Regions from separate parts of the Homo sapiens genome. Here all the other regions are reported to be linked to region 2. The links are microRNA targets in miRTarBase. Many come from high-throughput screens and were not tested one by one. Region 2 holds a microRNA gene; each other region holds the end of a gene's coding sequence.
What was found. Region 2 holds the annotated microRNA hsa-miR-1227-3p (CGUGCCACCCUUUUCCCCAG, at 1,835-1,854, shown strand). A microRNA usually pairs through its seed, bases 2 to 8, with sites in the 3' UTR of a target mRNA and lowers its output. Matches are read on the target gene's strand: a 7mer-m8 pairs with bases 2 to 8, a 7mer-A1 pairs with bases 2 to 7 and ends in A, and an 8mer does both.

Region 1 (3,000 bases), not on the chromosome of region 2:
CTTAGTGATTTACTTATGAAATGACCGCTGTGCCCTTACTAAAGGATACATCCTTTCATCTCTGGAAATTGTGATTACAAATGATTTCTTTAAATTGTTCTTTGTCTTTTTAGGATTTCCTGAGAAGATAACAGTGAAACAGCGTTATCGCCTACTTGGAAATAGTCTCAACGTGCATGTAGTAGCTAAACTAATCAAAATCTTATATGAATAATTTTGAAATAACTCTGAAAGATGGTCATATGATATTCCTTCATTTTCAGAGAGTAATTCTGAAATTCTGTTTTGAACTAATTCTGGTGAAATTTAACTAAATTATTTTAATCTGTCCTTATTAAGAAATTTGGATTTTATTAAAAAAATCCATGTGTTTCATCAAATTTATATTACTGTATTTTATAAAATACGAACTATTGTTATGCTTTATGGAGAGTATATTTTCATATGAAACTGATAAATATATATGTGGAATATTCTTTTTAAAAACAATTTTATAAACAAATCAAGGAGCACTAGAGCTTTAGTGTCTACATGAGTATCTTGTGAAGTGTCATAACAGGCATAACATATTTTTATGTTAATTAAAGAAGTTTTTTATTTCTAATTTTAAAATAATGATTCTAATTCTAGCCCATTGAATGTTTTACTTAATTTCCAATCCTGTAAATATTTCTTTATTTCATCTAAACAAATGCATATGATATGTAAACCAAATTATCATCATTCAGTTTATACAGCAGACTGAAGAATATGTCAGGAAAAATAATCCTAAATGTTTGATTACCTCTCCATGAAGCGGCCACAGAAACTGTTGGTGCACATTATCTACATTTTCCTCAGCCTCTATCTGAAGGACAAAACTCATTTTTCCTTCTTCATTTTGTATGTACTTTCCTTTAGTTGACTATTATCAAAGCTTGTTTTTGTCTTCTCAGCTTCTGAGTTGAATTTGCCTTTGCACGCTGAGGAATGTAGCATGACGTTAAGATTTCAGGGAGGAAGCTGCCCTCTGATCCCATGTCATATGACAGTACTCCCCTCCCCCCAGTTGTTCTTTATTGTAGCAACATACACTCTCAATGAACTTTTATGACTTTTAACTTTCTCTGTCTCTCTTCCTCAGCAGACCTCTTGGAATTAGGGTTTCTAATCAAACTAAGTCTTGCATCATAAATTCTATGGTTTGTGATAAAAGCAAGTGACAAAGAGAAGAGAGATGAAAAGAAACAAGTCCAGAAATCATATTACAAGATTTTAATTCAAATTTTTCTTCTTAAAAATCAGCTATTTAGAGGTGGATAAATTGGAAGTTTGTGCATTGCTTGTGGGAACGTAAAATGGTTCAGCTGCTGTTGGAAAACGCTATGGAGGTTCGTCACAAAATTCAACATAGAATTACCCTATGATTCAGCGATTCCACCTCTGGCTATAGATCCAAAAGAATTGAAAGCAGGGACTTGAACAGATATTTGTACACCAGCGTTTATAACACCATTATTTACAGTAGCCAAAAGGTAGAAGCAGCCCAAGTGTCATCCCATTCACCCATGAATGGATGCAGGAATTGTGTTCCGTGCATGCAGTGGAATAGTACCAGCCTTCCGCAGGAAGGAAATTCTGACATATGCGGTGACATGGATGAACCTTGAGTACATTATGCGAAGTGAAATAAGCCACCCTGTGGGGATGGAGAATGGGTAGTTAGTGCATAATGGATACAAAGTTTCTGATTGGGGTGATGAGAAAGTTCTGGAGGTGGATGGGGAGGATGGTTGCACAACAGTGTGAGTGTACTTAATGCCACTGCAACTGTATATTTAAAAATAGTTAAAATGATAAATTTTACATTATGTATATTTTACTGCAATTGAAAAAATCATACTCTATTACCAATTTTTCAGAACTCATAGATAAATATGAATGTAGGGAAGCTGTAAGCCAGCCCATATACAGAAACTATCACTATCTACATTTTTCATATGTGTTCAGACAGAGCCTATTACAAGTCTCATAAATTTCAGTAAACAATCACAAATTATTTTGGCACACTTTCATGTAGGTTCTGTTCACTGCTGAAATATTCTAAATAAAATGGTTTAGAGTTTTACTGTAACTATGAATAATTATGCTATAATTATAGTATCCCACATTCGGTTGAGCAACATTATACAAAATAAGTGTCGAGTTACTGTGCACCAACTATAAATACTTGAAAGGTCTGTAGAGACATTTGCTTACAAACTGGTAGACAGAATGTAGCTTAGTGGAATTCTTAAATTATGGGAATGTATTCACAGGAAGACGGTGATTCTTGCCCTTAATTCATAATTGAAAATATGCAGTAACAAGCATAAAACTCACATCTTAATGAAGATGTATCTACCAGTGTCATTCAATTAGCAGATGTATATGTATGCATAATTAATTTGGAAAATGTTATTTTATGGAATGTCTGCTATATGCTTTTGGTAATAATGCTGTATATAAAATTTGCACTGGAAATTCTGTTTCCTGATATTTGGACTTGTACATTTATTCAGATGTTGGAAAACATAGCTTCTCATTTTCAGGAGAACTATGTGTAATTCAGTCTTCACCATACCTTACAGTAAACCGATTTTTCGTTCTCCTTTTCCCATCATCCCTGCTCTTTTAAACGGCTTGCCAGATAATTGTAAGGTATTTATTACCCTGCTTCATATTTTTAGTATGTCTTCAGGATCCAAAACTAATTCTAAGAGATGACCAAATCAATTAATGTAAACAAAATGAGTCATAGTTGGAAAATGATTTCGAAGAGGTGGGTAGTCATTGTAGGAGGGGTCAGAGCCTGACAATCCTCAGTGGCAGGCAAGAAAGAGGAATGATGGCATCACCTTCACAGAGGACCCTGGCCATGGTGTTCTGTCTGTGAAATCAGACCTTCACCATGGGCACTGCCCTATGTCTGGAAAGATGAGAAAATACCTCCAACCTTCAGCCAACTTATTCTTCCTCAAA
Region 2 (4,906 bases):
CGTCCCGGGCGCGCGGGCGGGTCCCAGGCTGGGCCCCTCGGAGGCCGGGTGCTCACTGCCCCGTCCCGGCGCCCGTGTCTCCTCCAGCCCGTCGGAGCCCTGCTGCTGGAGCGCTGCAGAGTCGTCCGGGAAGAGCCCGGCACCTTCTCCATCAGTGAGTGGGGCTAGGGAAGCCAGCGGCGCTTCCCGCAGCCCGGGGCACCCGCAGCGCCGCACTTTCCCCTCCCCGGGCGCCCAAGGTCTCCTCTGTGTCCCCAGCCTGGCGCCACCCTCCTCAAACACAAGAGTGCATTGTCCACGGGCAGCTCAAGGTCAAGTTCTCCTGGCGGGCACCACCCTTCCCACCTGCCGAGTCCACTTAAGCTTGGGTCCCTCCCAGACTCTGCTCTTTGTTCCCTGTGGGCCCAGGCTGTACTTACAGGGCAGGTGGGCCAGCCCCACCCAAAGCGTTTCCCCAGCTGCCAAGAGTAGCATGGGTCTAGCATTGTTATATGGCCCCGGGCTGGAAATCCCAGGTGGGGGTAGGAGGAGTGAGAGGGGGGTGTTCTCCTGGGTCTTAAGAGATTCCCTTCTGCGGGGAAAGATGGAGTCCCTGCTAGTTTGCCCAGAGTGGCTGTCAAAATTCCACAGGCCAGGTGGCTTAAATATCAGAAACATTCTCTACAGTTCTGGAGGCCAGAAATCCTAGATGAAGGTGTGGGTGGGGCCGAATCCTTCTGAGGCCGAGGGGAATCTCCCAGTTCCTAGTGGTGGCCAGTATCCTCCAGGTTCCTTGGCTTGTGGAAGCGTCACCTTGTCCTCCTTGCATCACGTCTGTGCCCACATTTCCCCTTCTACACAGACGCCAAGCAGAATTTAGGGCCCACCCTGACAACCCCTTTTTACTTCACTTTATTATTTTATTTGCTTATTTTTTGAGACAGGGTCTTGGTATGTCGCCCAGGCTGGAGTGCAGTGGTGCAATCTCGGCTCCCTGTAACTTCCCCCTCTCGGGTTCAAGTGATTCTCCTGCCTCAGCCTCCCGAGTAGCTGGTACTACAGGCACGCGCCACCATGCCCAGCTAATTTTTGTATTTTTAGTAGAGACGGGGTTTCGCCATATTGGCCAGGCTGCTCTCGAACTCCTGACCTCAGGTGATCCTCCCACCTCGGCCTCCCAAAGTGCTGGGATTACGGTCTTGAGCCACCGTACCCGGCCCTCTTTATTTTTGAGACAGGATCTTTTGTTTCCGAGGCTGGAGTGCAGTGGCGTGATCACAGCTCACTGCAGCCTCAACCCCCTTGGCTCAAGCAGTCCTCCCACTTCTGACTCCGGAGTGGCTGGGCCTACAAGGCCCCACCACCACACCTGGCTAATTTTTGTTTTTGTAGAGATGGGGATTTTGCCATGTCACCCAGGCTGGTCTCGAACTCCTGAGCTCAAGCAATCCTCCCACCTTGGCCTCTCAAAGCGCTGGGATTATAGGCATGAGCCACCGCACCTGGCGACAACCTCATTTTGACTAGTTTATATGCAAAGACCCTGTTTATATACAGGGCCATACTCATGGGTTCTGGGGGGTCAGGACATGAACACATCTTTGTGGGGGCCAGAGAAGGGACAGTTTATGGGCAATGGCAAGAGGAAGCTGCTTGTGGCTGTGGGTAGGACCGACCACAGGTGTTCCATCCCCAGGCTTCATTGAGGACCCTGAGAGGAAGTATCACTTTGAGTGCAGCAGCGAGGAGCAGTGTCAGGAGTGGATGGAGGCTCTGCGTCGGGCCAGGTGGGGCCAGGCGGTGGTGGGCACTGCTGGGGTGGGCACAGCAGCCATGCAGAGCGGGCATTTGACCCCGTGCCACCCTTTTCCCCAGCTACGAGTTCATGCGGAGAAGCCTCATCTTCTACAGGAACGAAATCCGGAAGGTGACGGGCAAGGTGTGTGCAGGGCTGCAGAGGGCCGGGGTGGGGCTGCAGGTGGCAGAGGCAGTCCTCCAGCCCTGGCTCATGGCCACCCGTCCTCCCCACAGGACCCCCTGGAACAGTTCGGCATATCCGAGGAGGCCAGGTTCCAGCTGAGTGGCTTGCAGGCGTGAGCGCAGGGCACGGTGGTCAGCGTGCAGCGGGACGGGACTGGCCCTGCCCAGCCATGAATCGCTTGGCCATGCCTGGATCTGTTTTGTTTTGGTTTTTGGTTTTTGGGTCAGGGTTTCACTGTGTTGCCCAGGCTAGAGTGCAGTGGTGCCACAGCTCACTGTGACCTTGACCTTCTGGACTCAAGTGATCCTCCTGCCTCAGCTTCCCAAGTAGCGGGGATCACAGGCATGAGCCGCCACACCCGGCCATCACACCTGGATTTTCAGTGGGAGGTTTTTGGTTTGGAGACATCCAAAGCCTGAAGCCAGGTGGGTGTGGGCAGGGGCTGCATTTTATGAAACTGCCCAGCAAGCTGCGCTCCCTGGGGCCCCAGGATCCACCTAACTGGCCTGGCACCTGGTGCCACGTGCTGCTGCCGCCAGGATATGCGCCTTCCCACAGGTGCCCTGCCTGAGTTGTGTGCATCCAGGGGCCTGGTGAGCCCCCAGGCTGGTGGCATGGCCCCCCTGCCCCGTGCTGAATGAATGTACAGAGCCAGACAAAGCTGTGAATGGCCTAGGGGCTGAGTCCCACACCAGCTGTGAATTCTCCTGCAGACAGGAGGGCCCTGGCTGTGCACCTGGGGAAGTGGTTGCCCTGGGGCCAGGGTGCTTGTTCTGTTCAAATAAAGGTACCTCTTTTCCACACTGGATGGCGGTGAAGTGAAGGAGAGGGGAGGGGCAGCCAGGGAGCCCCCACCCAAGGGAAGTAAGGCTCAGGGTCCTGAGAGGCAGTGGCTGGGCCTCCTGCACTGAGGGGAGAGCTAGAACCCCCAGCCAGGACAGGTGGAGGCTGGGACCCAGGCCTGGGGAGAACAGAGCTGCTGTGTGGTATCAGGAATCCTGTGGTGACCTGGGGTCCTGCCTCTGGCATTCACGGGCCCTCCCGGAGTGTGGCTGGGGCCTGGGCGGGCTTTGGTCCATCTGATGTGAAAAGGACTTTGCCGATGTCATTGGGGTCGCAGATCTGGTTTTCCGTTCATCAAAAGGCACTTTGCCTGTGGCCTGGTGCCCTCATAAGCCTCCCCTTGCCTGTGGCCTGGTGCCCTCATAAGCCTCCCCAAGGCCAGGGTGTCCTGGTGTCAGCCCCCGGAGCTTCTGCTAGGAGCACCCCTAGGCCCTCCACTCCCCGTTTCGGCGATGACACACTAGCCGGGGCCTCTCACTGGCCGCCAGGAGACGCCTCATGCCACCTGGAAGAAAGGCTGCCATTCACACCAGGTCCGAGTGAAAACAGTCTGTTTATTACAGCGTCTAGAGGTGGGGATGCAGAATGCAGGGGTGCCCAGAGGAAGGGGCGCCTGCAGCCCAGGGGCGGACCGTGACAATGCGCGCAATCCAAATACAGTTCACCCGGAAGACACGGCAGAGCCTCCCACGTTACAAAGGCTGACACAGACCAGCAGCGTGTTGTGTTGGGAGGGGGGTCTGACCACGATGGCGAGGGCAGTCGGCGGGGGGTGGGGGGCCTGCTGACCACTGAACAGACTGACGCATCCTGGGGGCAGATAAATTAAGGGGGAAGTCTTAAATAAGTCACTGTGCGTGCCTCATGGGCCGAGGAGGGGGTATCCTAGTTTTTAGGGTTCCTATCAATTCCTGAGCAAGAGCCACTCCCAGGCGCCGCCCGCCCACCCACAGTCAGCAGCAGCAGCACAGGTCCCCGCCAGCTGCCCACGGAAACTCAGGCCAGGTGCCAGCACCAGGCTCCAGATCCCCAGTCTCCACAGCCACCCTGCCACCCGCCACACACCACCCCTCAGTCTGGGAGTGTCTGAGAAGAACACAGGCCCAGGGCTCAGAACAGGAGGGTGTCCGCAGGCAGCCACCACACTAGTTCACGTGTGGTGACACGCATATGACCCAGTGGGCTCAAGGAGACTTCTGCCTGGGCCAGTGGCTCTGAGACCCAGTGCGTGTCCTGAACATACGGTGGCCTGCGTGGGCAGGAGCCCTGCATGGCCATCTGCAGGACCCGTGATGGCACCCGGACTGCCACTGTCACCTAGAGGGAGGCAGAAGTAATACAGTGTTTAAAGAATGTGTCTTGTTCTAGACCAGGGACTCGGCCGTCTCTGCCATCAACCCTGTGGCGTATCCGGCCCGTGGCGACACAGAGCAGGCTGCCTGTCCTGAAGGCCAGGCTCGGGGCTTGGGGCTCAGGCAGAGGCACAGCACCTTCTAGCTGAGAGCACCAACGTGGGGTGGGGAGGGCACTGGGCACCACTTAAGAGGACAGGTCCGGAGCACCATCTTCAGAACTCAGCTATGTTGGAGGGTGGGGGTCTGAGAGGTTGTTGGGGGCTGGGGGAGGCAGCACCCCCCTCACCAGGCACAAGCAGGGGTCTTCAGGCCCTCCCACACAGGACTCCCCCACCTAGCAACCACAGAAGCCTTTCCTCCGTGGCTCCCTTTGGAGGCCACGTGGTAGGGATGTGACGTGTGTCCATCCTGCCCTTGGGAACCAGAACACAGGGCTGGCAGCTCCCTGGAGGGTGGATCTGTGGCACCTTGGGGAAGGGGCTCCCCGATGCCATCTCACAGGAGCAAGCACTTGAGAAGGTGGGCTCAGCAAGTGCCACACAGCCCAGGGCCAGATGCGGGGAGCTCAGACTCCCAGATCCCATCCTCCAGGGAGGGCACAGAGCCACCACTGCTCAGACAACCCAGGCCCTGACTGCTCAGGGCTCCAGAAGCACTGGAGTGGCCCTGCCTGCCTGCTACACCCCGGCCTCAGCTCCTCTCCTTCCACACCCAGTCCCAGGCACCCGCCAAGGCTGCAGAGTGGGGG
Region 3 (3,000 bases), not on the chromosome of region 2:
AGGCTCTGTCCCTAGCACACTCCCCTCCTTTCTGACCATATGGCAGTTCTCAGGGAGCACACCTGGAGACTTCAGGACCCAGGGACTCCAAGAACAGCTCCCCTGTGACTGGGCTTCGGGGCGTGGGGCTCTGACTGTTGCTGTCAGTGACTAGGGGCCCTGCTGCCCCCTGCTTAGGCACCCGGAGCCTTTGGGGCTGAATGAATGATTGCTGTGGCCCAAGATGGGGCACATTCCTGGGCAGGGTAGAGACCTGTGTATCTTTCCCCCAGATAAGAAGATAGAAAGATTGGACACAGATGATTTGGACGAGATTGAGAAAATAGCCAACTGAGAAGCTCCACCAGCCACTGATGCCAGCCCTGGCACTGCCCCTGCACAGGAGACAAGTGCGTTCAGGGCACAGGCCCCGACATCACCCCAAGGACAACGGCACAAGTAGAGAGAAACTACCTACCTCACTTCAAATTATGTTTGGACTTGACAAAAATGTATGCAAATGATGGGGGATGGTAGAAAAAAATTATTTACACAACCTTGGAAGATTAGGCATGAATACACAGAGATTTACCTTTTGGAAGTTTCATCTTTTAATTTGGCCAGTGTTTCCTTCATGCTAATCTAGATGCTGTGGCTGATTACTTGCCCAGGATCTCCTGTGGCAGCCTCTGCTTGTTCTCTGGCTTGGAGTGGATGGGGCAGCCTCCAGCTCCTGTGGAAGTAATGGAATAGTGGTGGAAAGGGAACACAGAGAGGGAGGCTTCCAGTAAGATAGGTGTGTAAGCCCAGCCATCATGTTTGGAATGGCATGAGGCAGCAGAGGAGGCCTGAGAGCTGCTGCTTTGGACTTGGGGGTGGGACAGCTCATCTGAGTATTGCCAGCCCCCTGTCCTAGTGCCCACAGCAGAAGGGAATTTGTTAAATAAGCATGGACCAAAATGCCAACCTCTCGGTTGTGTATATGGGTTTGTGTCACAGGACTGTGACCTGTTCTCGGTGGGTGCAGTCTGTGTAGAGTGCACATCTGATTATTGGTGGGTCCTGTGCCTGTGCTTAAGCAAGTCCTGTGGAGAAGTCATCATGGAGAATTAGTGGTGGCCCTAGCGTGCCACAAAACCTGGTCTCATGAGCATTTGCAACATCCCTTTTACATCCTTAATATCCCCTTACCCCACAGTAGCCCCAAACAAATGTGATCTGAGGTTTAGATCCTCAGTGAAAATTGTGGTTTCAAGTCTTCATGGCCAGCCTCAAGGCAGTTCTAGATGTGATCAGCAGTAGTCACAAATTCTTGTTTTGTCTCCACACCCAGAAGGCAAGTTTTGTCAGAGCTGGGGAATAATTTCAGATATTTGACATCTTGATTATAAAGGGCTTCTGAACATCTGTGTTTACTGCCTTTGGAATACAAACAGGTGCAACTGAGGGACTAGCTACACTACCACCATTTATCTGTCCAAGGCAAGAGTATCACCAAGGCCTTTGCTCCAGCCTTACTTGGCATCTTTGCGCAAGATAGTCAGAGCAAACAATAGTAATGGACACTTCTCACACCTGGCCAAGGCTGTTGGTACCCACGAAATGACAGCAAAGATGAGAGGAAACTGAATTGCAAGAGCAATATGAAACCCCAACCAAGAGGAGTACTCTGCAGTTCTTTGGCTTTGGTATAGAGTGGCCACTTTCTCTAGGACCTGGAAGAAGAGTTTGATGGCTAAGAACGATTGTGATCCTAGGTCTTCTTTGTACGCATCTCCGTATTTAGGCCAGATCTGCCTCCTGGGAAGGGAAGGGGCCAATGTCAGCCTCCAGGTGATTTCTTTAATCTGACATTACAAAGAGACCAACAGACTGCCAATTCTACCACATTCCCCTGGTGGGTACTCGACTATGTAGTTTTCTCTATGCTTCTGGTCAACTCTGACACATCTTGGAATTCTTGTAATAAGAAAAGAAATTTTTATACTTTTTTCTCCTTCCCTGAGTCCTGTGGACCAACCCTGAAATACTAAAAACAAGGGCAATAATTAAAGAAGTATAGACTCTTTAGTAGGCCACAGGCAGAGCAGACTCCCACCTTCTCAAGCACATACAACCTCTCTACTGGTGTAGCCCCAAGTGTGAGAAGGAAAGTGGGAAGCGGGGTGCTGCAGACTCTTTGACAGCAGGAGGAATGGGAATCTGGTAGAAGTATAGGTCAACAGTTCTTTTTTTTTTTTTTTGGAAACGGAGTCTCACTCTGTTGCCCAGGCTGGAGTGCCGTGGCACGACCTCGGCTCACTGTAACCTCTGCCTCCCAGGTTCAAGCGATTCTCCTGCCTCGGCCTCCTAGGACTACAGGTGCACGCCACCGCACCCAGCTAATTTTTGTATTTTTAGTAGAGATGGGGGTTTCACCATGTTGGCCAGGCTGGTCTTGAACTCCTGACCTCAAGTGATCCACCCACCTTGGCCTCCCAAAGTGCCAGGATTACAGGCGTGAGCCACCGCGCCCAGCCAACAGTTATTAATCAGGGGTCTTGGACCTCTAAGAATTCACTGGATGGGTTTCATGGAGTCTACGAAGTATATATACAGTAGTTTGAGTTTAAATGTATTTTCCTGGCTGGGTGCAGTGGCTCATGCCTGTAATACCAGCACTTTGGTAGGCCTAGGTGGGCGGATCACCTGAGATCGGGAGTTCGAGACCAGCCTGACCCACATGAAGAAACCCTATCTCTATTAAAAATACAAAATTAGCTGGGCTTGGTGGTGCATGCCTATAATCCCAGTTACTTTGGAAGGCCGAACCTGGGAGGTGGAGGTTGCGGTGAGCTGAGATTGCGCTGTTGCACTCCAGCCTGGGCAACGAGAGCAAAACTGTCTCAAAAAACAAAACAAAACAAAAAGGCCCGGCTCAATGACTCACACCTGTAATCCCAGCACTTTGGGAGGCTGAGGCGGGCAGATCACCTGAGGTCAGGAGATCAAGACCAGCCTGGCTAACACAGTGAAACCCCG
Region 4 (5,177 bases), not on the chromosome of region 2:
ACCTTAAGCCCTCAGGACACAGATTTGAGGACTGACCCAGAGGTCTTCAAATGGAGAGAATCAAGCTTAGTCTTGATGGACACCATCAGAGATGTCACCTTTAAGCATTTATCAGAGTTACCAGTTTACATTTTTGTAATTTTTTTAGAAATGCTTGTTTCCTAGTAGAATATCATTCCACTTGTATCCTACAGTGAGTGACATCTGATTACTGGTTTCTAGACTTTTGAGACCAGTCTCCTAGGGAGGTGCTGGAGACAACCTCTTCTCAACACTGCTGAGGAGTGTGGGACAACCTCTGTAAACAAGAGACCTTATTCTTGCTGCTCCAGGAACTACTGGAGGCTGTCACGACAACTATGGTCCCTCAGGCTGAGCTCTAGGCCCAACATGTAGTCATGATATCTAGGCCACAAGACTTGGCCCACAGAGCTCTGTACTCTTTCCAGGAAGCTCTTGGGCAACAATGCAAATGAGACCATACCTGAATTTTGACCTATTCCTTACCATTCTGCTGTCCTTTCTGAAGCAAAGTCAGGACTCCCCACAAAAGCCTTCCCTTCTCTATTAAACTATCACCAGTAAATGACTGTGACAAAGCACCAACTGAAGCACACGCCTTGGGAGCACAGGTGGCTCCTGCACTTGGTGCTTAAGGCGAGCAGTGCCTGATACTGTTCTCAATCCATCCCATGCAATGAGCAGGAACCCCAGGATTGAAGTGGCTTAAACTCTTTGTCACACAATCCAGGGCAGTGTAAGGCAGGCAACTCCTGGGCTAGAAGAGTTGGAAACTCGATGAGTCTCATACAGGCATCATGTGTGGGGCCAACAATATCCATGAGAAAGGGCAACCATCTCTGGAAGCCCTGAGACCCCATCTCAGGTGCTCTTGGCCAAGGTTAGATCATGTCCTTACCTAATCCATCAATGGGGAGGCAATGAGGGCTCCCAAAGGGCTTAAACAGAGTGGTTACTTTTTTAGCTTGTTATGTAGAATTCAAAAAAGCAGATTCAGTAAAGGTTCTGTGATAGGCTGAAAAAGGGCCCCCCAAAAGACCCACGTCCTATTCCCTGGAACCTGTGAATGTTTCCTCTTTTGGCAAAGCGTTTGCAGATGTGATTAAAGTACAGCTCTTGAGATGTGGAGAGGATCCTGGATTATCTGGGTGGTCCCTGAATGCAATCACATGTATCCTTACAGAAAGGAGACAGAGGTAGACTTCATATACACAGAGGAGAGGGTGATGTAAAGATGGAACAGAGAGATTTGAAAATGTTGGCTTTAAAGATTTGGGTGATGTGATCACAAGCCACCAGAAGCTGGAAGAGGCAGGGAATAAATCCCTCGTGGAGCCTCTGAAGGGAGCTCGGCCCTGCTGACACCTTGAATTAACCTAAGTGTTACTGATTTCAGATGTCTGGCCTCCAGAACTGTGAAAGAATACATTTCTGTTGTTTTTAAGCCATCCGATTTATGTAATTTGGTATAGTAGCCACAGGAAACTAGAACAGCTTCTTCTTAAAAAGCGCCTGGGTAATATACCAAAAAAATTAGCCAGGCGTGGTGGTGTGTACCTGTAGTCTCAGCTACTTAGGAAGCTGAAGTGAGAGGATCACTTGAACCTAGGAGGTGGAGGCTGCAGTGAGCTATGATCATGCCACTGCACTCCGGTTTGGATGACAGAGTGAGACCCTGTCTCAAAAATAAATAAAAAGGTCCTCCAAGGTCACCCAACTTAGCCCTTCATAGCTACAACCTTTTTCAGCATTTCTCCTTCCTACATGCCTACTGCCAACTCAGACTCTGCTTTCTAATGATGCTCAGAAATCTGGTATTTAACTAAAGCCAGATTGTGAGAACAGTAATAATAAATGAAACCTCATCTTCCAGGAGAGAACATTAGGATCTAGCTGACCCTTCATCCTGACCTTCCCAGCCCTCACCCACACTAAGCCCCTTCCATTCAACAGCTCAGCATTTCTCAAAATGCGGTCCAAGGACTGCCTGCATTGAATCACCTGAGGCACTTGTTAAAGATGTAAAGTCTAGGACTCCATCTCAGACTTGCCAAATAAAAAGTTTAGGGGTGAGATGCAGAAATCTGCACTTTTTTTTTTTTGAGACAGAGTTTCACTCTTGTTGCCCAGGCTGGAGTGCAGTGGTGTGACCTCGGCTCACTGCAACCTCTGCCTCCCAGATTCAAGCGATTCTCCTGCCTCAACCTCCCAAGTAGCTGGGATTACAGGTGCCCGCCATCACATCCAGCTAATTTTTTGTATTTTTAGTAGAGACGGGGTTTCATCATGTTGGCCAGGCAGGTCTCGAACTCCTGACCTCAAGTGATCCACCCGTCTCAGCCTCCCAAAGTGCTGGGATTACCGGCGTGAACCACCAAGCCCAGCCTGAAATCTGCACTTTTGACAAGCATCCCAGGTGATTGTTAGCCCACTGATTCATGAGAACCTCCACTATAGAAGAAGGAGCCAGAAGTGATCCAACAGTACTTTCCTCCATGGCTTGATGGCGAAGCCTCTGACCCTGGGCCAAGTGCTAAACTTTTCTGGGGAAAGCTACTGCCACGGCCCCCGGTACTGGGTGCTTGTGATGAATGTCAGGCAGAGCTCATAAGGAAACCAAAAGAGTCCTGTCCCCTCATGCCTTTCATGTTGCAAAACAGCTGCGAAGGCATTCCAGGAGTTGAGGACCACAAATTCTTTTGAGAATATGAGTCACCATTAGGCAATTCATGTTAATTCTTTAATTAAAAAGACCCTCACTAAACAATAATAGTTTACAAATGCATGTACCTTTTGATCCTGCAATTCCACTTTTGGGAATTTATCCTAGAGATACACTTTATGCTTGCACATTTGTACAAGATTATTCACTGCAGAGCTGATTGTCATTGCAAAAGATTGGAAAGAATCCAAATGCTCATCATTGTGGAACTGGCGAAATAAATTATAACACATTTATACAATGAAAAAAATGAACAAATGGCATATGAATTGATATGAAATGTCTCCAAGATAGATTGTTAAGGGAAAAAAGCAAGGTGCAGAACATGTGTATAACGTGCTAACTTTTGTGTATAAAGAGAGAATGTGAGACTCTACATTCCCATTTGCTTGTATATCCATAAAGAAATGCTGGATGTACGGATGAGAATAGTGGTTACCTCTAGGCCAGGGTAGACAGGAACTGAGCAGGTGGAGAATAAGGATTGGAGGGAGACTTTTCACTCTATATATCTTTTGGGTGTGGAAACATGTGAGTGTATTATTTATTTTTGAATAAATAATACAATAAAATATAAAACATACACTTATTGTGGCCCTCTGCACAAGCAATCTGGTTGTGCAGAGTCTTGGTGTCCCCTGCTAGTCTTAGTACCTGTATAGAGCTCTTCAGACTGGGTGTCGTGTTGCAGAGGCTAGCACCATTCCTGATGTCACCCTGGGTGAGACGTGGTCCTCAGAATCCAGATTTCCTTTTTTGTCTTTTTCCTTCTTCCACATGTTCTAAGAAAACATAGATTTCTGGCCAGGCATGGTGGCTCACGCCTGTAATCCCAGTACTTTGGGAGGCTGAGACGGGTGGATCACGAGGTCAGGAGTTCGAGACCAGCCTGGCCAACATGGTGAAACCCTGTCTCCAGTAAAAATACAAAAAATAGCTGGGTGTGGTGGTGCATGCCTATAATCCCAGCTACTCAGGAGGCTGAGGCAGGAGAATTGCTTGAACTCGGGAAGCAGAGGTTGCAGTGAGCCAAGATTGTGCCACTGGACTCCAGCCTGGGTGACAGGGCGAGACTCTGTCTCAAAAAAAAAAAAAAAGGGAAAAGAAAATGTAGATTTCCATTGTCCAAAGTGACAGCGGGAGGATGGGTCTTGAGTTTCTCAGGTTGGAGAAGCAGCTCCACGAAGGTCCTGAGCTTGGGTCCACTGTACATGGGACAGCTCCAAAAGAGGAAGGTCCCAGCACTGCATCTAGTAGTGAGGCATCAGCTGCTCCCGGTTCACGAGGGAGGAGTGGTGGTAGCGATCCCGAGTGGCGAAGTCTGCATTCTCCTGGGTGAGCTGAGTCATCTCCATGTCAACCTTAGCCAGGGACGGCGCCAAGATGATCTGCTCCTGAGGGGACCGCAAGCTCCTGCAGTGAGAGAGACACAGAGGATGGTGAGAAGGACAGAACAGAGACTGAACAGTAGAGGTGAGTCTACTGGGCATAAAGAAATTATCTGTAAACACACATGTATTTAAATGTTTAAAACATAATTCTTGAAAGGTATATGTACAGGTATATATGAACTCAAAGCATGAGAAATACAAAGTATCAAATAAAATAAAAAGAGACAGAGAGAGTGATATTTACCCTCCCTAAGTAGAAAAGTATAAAGCTGTACCTACCTGATAGGAAATAACCAACAAAGAGAGGTTTTGCCCTCCAAATGGTATCATGTTGGGGCTCTGTAGCTTTTCTTTGCCTTTTTTTTTGTCAAAAATAATGGAATGGAGAGGCTGGAAAATTGAGAAGAGCAGAAAGAGAAAATTCTCGTAGGTCTATTGAAAAGAAAGTTGAATAAGGAGTGATTTCAAGAGCTAAGGCTCACACAGCAAGCAGCTAAGAGGGACTGCAAAGGCTTTTGACACCAAGGTGGCCTCAGGTGAAGAGCAAGTCCCATATGGATCCCACTGTCACTGGAGTCTCTGCATACAGTTTCGGTTGGAATAAACTGGGAAAGAAAAATGTTAGGGATGCATAGGGAAAGTGCTAAGAGGAAGAAAGGAGTGAGGAAAGCTCAGGCTGGCTGTCCAGGCAGCTGCTACGGAAGGCAGACCCAGTCACAGCTCCATCCCTAATCAGCTAGGTGGCCTCCAGAAGCCTCTTTACCTTCTTGTGTCTCTATTTTCTCATCTTCCCGGGTCTCTTCCAGTTCCTATAGTCTGTGTTAGGTCTGTAAGTCATACCTTAGACATGGATTTCCTCTTAAAATTTTTACTCTAAAAGAATCATCTACTTTATGAGTAATAAGTTTCAATTGTTTGAATATGGAATACATTTGAGAGTTGCGAAAAGGTAGAAATCTAATGTTATTGATCTGTGGAACTTAAACAGAAAGTTTCAACGGACTCTGGCCAAATGTCCTGCTATAGAAGTTCAGATCACATGA
Region 5 (3,000 bases), not on the chromosome of region 2:
AAAAGGAAGATTCAGTGATTGAACTCACACAAGGCAATGGTCTGGGGCCTGCTAAAAGTCATGCTGTGGTTTCCATTGCATTTGAGACAACCAGACAAACAAATACAACTTTTAGAGGAAACTTCAAGTTTTCTCTTATTCACATCTCAGCCAGGAGTGGGATCTTACACTTAGAATTGCTTAGACCTGTGCTGTCCAATATGACAGCCACTAGCCGTATGTAGAGTATATTCACAATCCCGATCAATTTCCATCAGACCTCCATTTTTTCCAACTCTCTCATCATGAGTGGGGTTAGGGTTATTGTTTTCGGTTACTGAATATATTATTTTTCTATGTAAAGCTAACAGACATATATGGTGATCAAATCTGTAACCACAACCTCAGTAGTACTATTTTCTGTTATTGATTCAGATTTTATCTGCAAGACTGGCTGCAAGTAAGTTCAGAGAGACAGCATATTATTTGAGACACCTAACATTTCGTTAAAAAAATACTCAGTATCGGCCGGGCGCAGTGACTCACGCCTGTAATCCCAGTACTTTGGGAGGCCGAGGCGGGCGGATCACCTGAGGCCAGGAGCTTGAGAACAGCCTGATCAACGTGGAGAAACCCTGTCTCTACTAAAAATACAAAATTAGCTGGGCGTGGTGGCACATACCTGTAATCCCAGCTACTCGGGAGGCTGAGGCAGGAGAATTGCTTGAACCCGGGAGGTGGAGGTTGGGATGAGCCGAGATCACGCCATTGCACTCCAACCTGGGCAACAAGAGCGAAACTCCGTCTCAAAAAAAAAAAATATGTATAAAGATACAATCAAGAGCATCAATTTGGCTTAAAAGGCAATGTTACCTTAGTACTCATTAGCAAAACACACAATGCAATGCATTCTGACATGTTTATGATGATACTCTGATGTACTAATGTAAGTGAAGATGATAAATGCAATAGAAAAATTTTAAATATACTGGTGTTGGGGGCAAGGTGACAGATAAGCTGTGTCACACTCTGAGAGATACTGTTTATTACTGTACTCACATTGAACATGATTTGATTGTAGTAATTGCATCTGAGACCACATATTAGGGGGCTTCATAAAGGGGTTTTGTTATTCTTCAAAACTAATAACGCTTCATCTTAACCAAAACCCTCAATGAGAATAATCAGAAATAAAGCAAAGTTTTACACACTACCCTGAGGATCAATAACTTCAAGCCCAAGGCCATCTTAAGGAAATTTTCTTTCTGGTTTGCTAAAGCTGTGGGAGACCATTACCATCATGAGGCCAGTTACAAGAAATATTGATCTCTAAAATGTCATGCTCTAACACTCTATGCGGACTCACAGCATGTGCTGGCCAGATTGCAGAACAAGTCAGCTCTAAGTATTTCACACATTTATCAGTACAGGAGCTATTGCATTTACCACTGGATTAAGTTTCTGAGTAGCCATTGAAATTTGGGAAAAGGTATGGTAATGCAAAGTAGATAGGTTAGGACCTCCACACTGAAAACAGATATGGTACAGCTGTGAACATGGGAAAATTCCCTGAACTTGTACAAGGAAACAAAATCCAGAACAGGCTGGGCGCAGGGACTCATGCCTGTAATCTCAGAACTTTGGGAGGCCGAGGCGGGTGATCACCTGAGGTCAGGAGTTCGAGACCAGCCTGGCCAACATGGCAAAACCCCATCTCTACTAAAAATACAAAAAATTAGCCAGGTGTGGTGGTGGGCACCTGTAATCCCAGCTACTTGGAAGGCTGAGGCAAGGGAACTGCTTGAAACCAGGAGGCAGAGGTTGCAGTGAGCCGAGATTGTGCCATTGCACTCCAGTCTGGGCGACAGAGCAAAACTCTGTGTCAAAAAAACAAAACAAAACAAAACAAAATACAGAACAGATTCAACTCAGGTAAGTGAAACTGCCAGATGGCCAAAACAAGTTCTTCAAATTTCCACAGAACTCATTGACCCAGCAGGACTACATTTTTATCCAAATTGCAGCTGGGAGCTTGATTAACTGAGAAACAACACAATTAAATGACATGACATTCTTCATAGGCACCAATCCAATGTCAGTATCTGCAGGCTGAAGTACAGACAGTTACACTGAAATTGCGTATGCTCTGAGGAATGACACTAAATTCGCTTCCAGGAAAATTACTCAATTTTGTAAGTAATTTTCAGTTTTTTTTCTCAGGGATATTTTTCAACTTTCACTTTAATTTTCTTTAGTTGCTTAGTTGTACATTTTGAGAAGGCAAATCCATTGGAACTTGGGGAGGCTTAGAACATAAATCAGTATTAGAAGTAAAGGGAACACACAGCTAAAAGTTTTACTTTAATCACAAATTCACAACTAGAGATATCATTTGCATATCTTAGAACGCTAAAGACCTGTTAAAATTTTTTAACCAATCAGCAAAAATATGTGCCCCACAGATTTCTAATGTTCATAATTTAGAATTTATCACATATAATATTTATTAATAGTTTATTTGCAAAATTATTATTCTTAAAACACTTCTTTCCAACACATTTACAATGTTCATGTGTTTTAAAGAAAAAAACCACCCTCATTTAAAAATGTACTACTGACTTTAATGTGTGGTTATACCAGTGCCACCAAATTAGAAAAGAAAAAGAAACATACAGCTGTATTGGATATGTAGTTACTACTACAAATAATGACAACACACGTCCTATACAAAGATCATATTCACGCTTTTCTACCACTTCTCAGTCATTGTCAGAACCATTTGGAGGTAAGAAAACCAATGCATCATTGAAAATATGCCCAAATGCCCTAAGGCGGTATACCCCATACATCATCACATGCATCTGATTTGGAGTCAGTCCATTAAAAGTAACAGCCATATCTGAACAACAGCCTTCTACTACCTGGTTGGGGTGATAAGTCATTGCCTCTTTAATAGAAAGCCCAACAGATTTGGTATTAAATACATCTTTTCCATCAGCATCTTCTGCATTTTCTGCAAAT
Region 6 (5,157 bases), not on the chromosome of region 2:
AACTGGTTAAGAACCACTGCTAGGGAGCTAGTGGACTCATTTGGAGGTAAGGGGACACTCTGGCTCTTTGAATTGCCAGAGTTCTTGTGCTGATTCTTTCTCATCTGAGGGTTGGTATTCTTTTAACTGTGGTGTAAGTTGAGTACAGTCAGTTGGCTGAATTTCTTCATGTTTTCTGAGGGCCAAGGCTCTGTGCATTTGTGGTTGAATTCTTACCTTGGTTTTACAGGAAGGTATATTAGCAAACTATTTTTGTAGTTTGCTACATCTACTGAATTCCAGTAGATGGCGCTTAGGAGTAATGGTCGGTAGACAGATCTTAGCCACTTTGCTCCTTTGGATTTCCTGGTGTTTCTGGCTGTGCTCTGTGGTGCGGTGGGAAGAGAGGTGACCACCTCATCAGGTCCGCTCCTGGGCCCTGGGGGAGCCCCTTCCAACCAATGGCACTGTGCCCGTGTTTCTTTTGTCAGGTGCACTCCCTCAGGCAGAGGCTGAGGTAGGGAGATAGGCCATCCCTTTTCCAGACAGCTGGCCCTGCATAGGGAGGCATGCCCACTGCTGTGGTAGCCCACAGGTTCATGTAACTCAGCACTCTCAGTACTCTGAGAGTGTGGGCTCCTCTCCTGCTCTAGTGCCTGCTACAGATCTCGCCTTGGCACTTCCAAGCTGCCACACTGCAGCCCCAGTGCAAGCTCAGGCTTTTTGTTCCCTCCTCAGCTTAGGGTTGGGGCAGCTGTGCTGCTGGGCCCAAGCTGGGGGCCCTGCCTGAAGAGCAGGGAGGTCAGGCAACTCAACCCGGAAGACAGTCTGGCCTCCTCTCTGTAGAATGCTGACAAAGTAATCAGGCCCTTTGTTCCCTCCCTAGCCTGGGGGAAGCAAGGGCAGGTACTGTGGTGGCAGCAATGGCAGAGGCCTGTCAGTTGTTTCTGGGACCTCCATCCCAGAGAAACACAGAGCCACCACCAACTGATCAGGCAGGAGCTGTGCTGGGGGCCCAAGCCAGGAGGCACCCTGCCCAGTGAGCAGCAGGGCCAGGGACTCGTGGAAAACAGTCTGGGCTGCCTTTCCATATGTCAGCTATAGCAGGCTGGAGGCCCATGACCGCTATTGGGCTTTTTGCTCCCTCTCCAGCCTGAGGGCAGCAGGGGCACAGGCTACGGCAGGGCAGAGGGCCTGTTGGTTACTTCTGGGAGCTCCATCCCAGAGAAATGAGGGCTGTGACTAGCTGGAGTGCTCAGGTAGTGGGTAGCATGGCTGCGATGGAGGCCCAGGCCAGTGGGCCTTGCCTGGCAAGGTGCAGTGGAAGTGAGGCCTGCAATCTGTCCGCTCCTCAGCACCATGGATATGGCCCCTATCCTAGGGGCACACGAGAGAGCCTGGCCTACCTTGTTGGCCGGACTATGGCAGCCGGGGCCATAGCAGCTCAGGGATCCACATTGGCTTGAGCAGTGGCTCTGCCCAGACTCCAAGCAGCTCTCTGTGTCAGTCTAGAACCCCAGGGTGTGTGTGTGTGTGGGTGGGGGGGGGGGGGGGGGAGGGCAGGTGGAGTCATGGAGGATCTCCTGTGCCTGGGGATTGCCAAGGTCCATGGCAGAAGTGTGAGTCCCCAGGAGCCTTCACTCACTCACACTTTCCCTGCTGTAGGGAGCCTCCCCTTGCTCTGCACCAATCCCAGGTGGACAGCTGTCCTTCCTTACTCCCCTATGCTCTCCATGACTCACCACAGCTTCCCTGATGAATCCCAACACAGCCTGCTGGATGATCAACCTGAAGAGCTTGTGTTCACTCACCACTCTGTCTCCTCTTGTGAAGGCTGCGCACACTAGCTGCTTCTAGTCAGCCATCTTGGCACTTCAGATACTTGTTTTCTTAAGTAGAATTTAGTAACTTGGAATGGAATCATCCAAAACTTAAAAGCAGACAGTTTAACTATTTTTTAAAATAGAGGGAAAGAGGTGGAGGGAGAAAGTAATTCTAGTGAGCCAAGTTCCATAACTTCAGAGCATAGAAATATTTTTGTCACCTTACCTATGGTGAAATTATTTTACATGAGGTGTCTTGCTGACAGAAAACAATGCTTGTTGCAATAAAACCACTGCCTTGAAACACTACTATACATAACTCTTTAACATTCCTGACAGTTGTTTCCCAACATGGATGTAAAGAACTTCAATGAAATTCATCAGACTCAAATATTAAGTAAATAATTTAATGATAGAACACTGAAATTTCTTTAGACACAGTATTTTCAAGTTATATTTCTGCCTGGAGTACAGATATGAAATAGCACAAACTGTACTCTGAATTAAGCAAACAGAATGAATAAAAAAAAAATATTCTCCCAACCTAAGTTTCCGTTCCTCATTTCCACTTGCCTCAGACTCTTTCTATTGAACATATCTAGTTAAATCTCTAATGGACGGCCTGTGGGAAGATTTACTGCCAACAGGGATGACTGACTTCTTTCCGGACACTGAGCAGGGGACTGTGGGCTCTGAAGCAGTTTACTTCCTGTGGAAAGCCAGTCCCATTTCTATTTTACTTCGATCCAGGCCTATTCAGATAAAGCACCACTCAGTAGCTACTGACCATTTAAGTATGGAGAGAAAAGCAAAGTAGAAAAATGGTTTTCACTTAAAGAAAAAGCAAATGGAAGACCAGCCATAATAGCTCCATGGCACAAGAGACATGACAGGGATCTCCTCCCCAGATGTCCCCTGATGTTTGTCAGCCTCTCATATCCCTGGCCCTCTGGCTTCTGGCTCTGTGATTACAGTTGCCACAGAGGATTCATGGACAGCAAAAAGCTTAAGGAACCTGGAGGTTTTGTACAACATGTACATTCTGCTGACAGAAACACATACATGGTATGGACTATTATTAAAATTGATAGCCTGCTTGCACTCAGTATACAGGCTGCTTAGGAACACTTTATTGGGAGATACCCTGCTGGTGTTGGAGCAGCACAAAATGATGAGGCTAACTTAAGTAGTGACAAGAATGATCCTCTTATACCATATGGCCAAAGAACAGCTGTCCATCCCCAAGTCTATGGGGGATCAGATGAAGTGTGGAGTTTGGTTGGTTGGTCAGTGAATTTTTGGTCAGTGAATACATACATATGGCATAGTGAAGTACAATTGCTTTTCTTTTCTTTTTTTTTTTGAGATGAAGTCTCGCTGTGTCACCCAGTCTGGAGTGCAGTGGCACAATCTCAGTTCACTGCAACCTCTGCCTCCCGGGTTCAAGCGATTCTCCTGCCTCAGCCTCCTGAGTAGCTGGGATTACAGGCACGTGCCACCACGCCCAGCTAATTTTTGTATTTTTAGTAGAGATGGGGTTTCACCATGTTGGTCAGGCTGTTCTCGAACTCCTGACCTTGTGACCCGCCCGCCTCAGCCTCCCAAAGTGCTGGGATTATAGGCGTGAGCCACTGCGCCTGGCCTACAATTGCTTTTCTTATGTTCCATTGCTTTATAAACTCATATCACATATACAGTCATCATTAAGACTTACTGACTGCAAGTACCAAATGTAGAAGCCTCCAACACTGTAAAAGCATGGCAAGACAGGCTTCAGGATGGGTCAGACCTGACATTACTCACTGTGGAGTACAAGCACTGAGTTCTTTCTAGTTCTCTCTGAGAGAGGTTCACCCACTGTCACACAATCACCAAACAGGGAAGAAGGCTTCTCTTGGCTTTGGCTCTCACTGTTCCTTGGAAGGGTTTCTGATTGGTGGAGGCAGAGCAGACAGTGAGTGGCCCAAAGTGGATTGATGGCCCCAGGCCAGGACCCAGAGACAAAAGGTAAGCGCTGTTGCTAGCCACATGGGTCTTCATCAGAGCACAGCAGCACCGCCTACCACTCAGCCCCTTCCTCAATCTAAAGCCCAAGAAGGGAAGTTCTTTGGGAGAGAAGGGAAGCTGGTAAAGGCCATGCTATTTCCCAAAGGCCTGACCCTCTGGGCCACCCCTAGCAATATAGTCAGCGTGGAATATGATCCCACCTAGAAAATGAATGGCACTATTTTAAGAGTAGAGCATCTTGGGGAAATCTAGGATACCTACTCTGAAGCTTTTACTCAAGTGTGGAAGCCACACCAGTATGCAGGTATACTGTCTTACAAATCTAGAAGGATATTTTAGTTTTCAAGCACCCCATGAACACTTTTTAAAAAATTCAACCACTGGCTGGGCATGGTGGCTCACACCAGTAATCCCAGCACTTTGGGAGGCCGAGGTGGGCGGATCACTTGAGGTCAGGAGTTCGAGACCAACCTGGACAACATGGTGAAACCTCGTCTCTACAAAAAATACCAAAAAAAATTAGCTGGACATGGTGGCGCGTACCTGTAATCCCAGCTACTCAGGAGGCTGAGGTGAGAGAATCGCTTGAACCCAGGAGGCGGAGGTTGCAGTGAGCCGAGATCGTGCCACTGCACTCCAGTCTGGGTGACAGAGTGAGACTCTGTATCAAAAAAATAAAAAATAATCAACCACTTAGAAAAGTACACACATTAAGCAGACCCTACATCTAGAATGGGTTAAGCAACCATTTATAAGCATCTTCATGAGAAATGATCACCTCTGGGTTTTTCTGATATTTGAAATAAACAAGGTACCAAACTGTATTTCCCTCAACACATAACTGTCCAAATTGCATGTACAAGTGGAGGTTTACGTAAAAGCCCTGACAGAACTATATTCCACCTTTTGAATTAGGTGCATAAGGCTACTGACCACTCTATATTTTACCAAGAGCAAGAGCGGTCACTTTTCTATTTCAGTACAATTATGGACAGAAATGATATGATGCAAAATAGAGGTTCTTCCATAAAGTTTAAGATGTAGGGTAGAAGGGAAGACAAAAAGCAAAATTCCCAAGAAATCAGAATAACTTCACACTGGTCTTGTACTCCAAGAAACCCTGAGATGAACTGTAGTCCTCAAACACCTGTGCTTGGCTCAGGCCCACCAAGACACTTCAGTATGCTTCCAACTGGTTCATCATCAACTTCCTGCTATATTCGTAGGCCAAAAAGAGTGCTCCATTGGCAGGGAATGCTCGAATCATAGTAGGTTTCAGTCCAGAATATAAGGCCGTTATTCCTAGCAAATAAAAGGGCGGTCAAAGACTGCAACAATCCCTCCTTTG

Region 1: the mRNA of TRDMT1 is a reported target of hsa-miR-1227-3p. Seed matches in the 3' UTR shown: 7mer-A1 at 2,042-2,048.
Region 3: miRTarBase lists DDX19B as a target of hsa-miR-1227-3p. The part of its 3' UTR that is shown has no 7-base or 8-base seed match.
Region 4: the mRNA of SLC12A8 is a reported target of hsa-miR-1227-3p. Seed matches in the 3' UTR shown: 8mer at 3,780-3,787.
Region 5: the mRNA of C1GALT1C1 is a reported target of hsa-miR-1227-3p. Seed matches in the 3' UTR shown: 7mer-m8 at 2,619-2,625.
Region 6: the mRNA of SLC25A15 is a reported target of hsa-miR-1227-3p. Seed matches in the 3' UTR shown: 7mer-m8 at 4,433-4,439 and 7mer-m8 at 3,295-3,301.

Annotation. Positions count from the first base shown.
Region 1 is chr10:17,146,254-17,149,253 of GRCh38, reverse strand. It overlaps TRDMT1 (tRNA aspartic acid methyltransferase 1), which reads left to right. Exons shown (of 11, transcript NM_004412.7): 11 at 114-3,000. The coding sequence ends at 214. Among named protein-coding and RNA genes, the nearest start is that of CUBN, 18 kb to the right of the region's middle.
Region 2 is chr19:2,231,010-2,235,915 of GRCh38, reverse strand. It overlaps MIR1227 (microRNA 1227), which reads left to right and starts at 1,767; the gene lies at 1,767-1,854. PLEKHJ1 (pleckstrin homology domain containing J1) reads left to right here. Exons shown (of 6, transcript NM_018049.3): 3 at 88-154; 4 at 1,676-1,766; 5 at 1,855-1,918; 6 at 2,011-2,763. The coding sequence ends at 2,076. MIR6789 (microRNA 6789) reads left to right here; the gene lies at 1-87. It overlaps DOT1L (DOT1 like histone lysine methyltransferase), which reads right to left. Exons shown (of 28, transcript NM_032482.3): 28 at 3,338-4,906. RefSeq lists a silencer at 1-146 and enhancers at 172-780, 783-1,362.
Region 3 is chr16:70,333,249-70,336,248 of GRCh38, forward strand. It overlaps DDX19B (DEAD-box helicase 19B), which reads left to right. Exons shown (of 12, transcript NM_007242.7): 12 at 273-2,057. The coding sequence ends at 334. DDX19A-DT (DDX19A divergent transcript) reads right to left here. Exons shown (of 5, transcript NR_039997.1): 3 at 572-712. Among named protein-coding and RNA genes, the nearest start is that of DDX19A-DT, 12 kb to the right of the region's middle. RefSeq lists an enhancer at 1-531.
Region 4 is chr3:125,079,897-125,085,073 of GRCh38, forward strand. SLC12A8 (solute carrier family 12 member 8) reads right to left here. Exons shown (of 14, transcript NM_024628.6): 14 at 2,748-4,156. The coding sequence ends at 3,994. It overlaps LOC124906278 (a long non-coding RNA gene), which reads right to left and starts at 2,170. Exons shown (of 3, transcript XR_007096045.1): 1 at 1-2,170.
Region 5 is chrX:120,623,472-120,626,471 of GRCh38, forward strand. C1GALT1C1 (C1GALT1 specific chaperone 1) reads right to left here. Exons shown (of 2, transcript NM_001011551.3): 2 at 2,203-3,000. The coding sequence ends at 2,739. Among named protein-coding and RNA genes, the nearest start is that of C1GALT1C1, 5.1 kb to the right of the region's middle.
Region 6 is chr13:40,809,497-40,814,653 of GRCh38, reverse strand. It overlaps SLC25A15 (solute carrier family 25 member 15), which reads right to left. Exons shown (of 7, transcript NM_014252.4): 7 at 2,194-5,111. The coding sequence ends at 4,987. MIR621 (microRNA 621) reads right to left here and starts at 3,888; the gene lies at 3,793-3,888. It also overlaps the pseudogene TPTE2P5.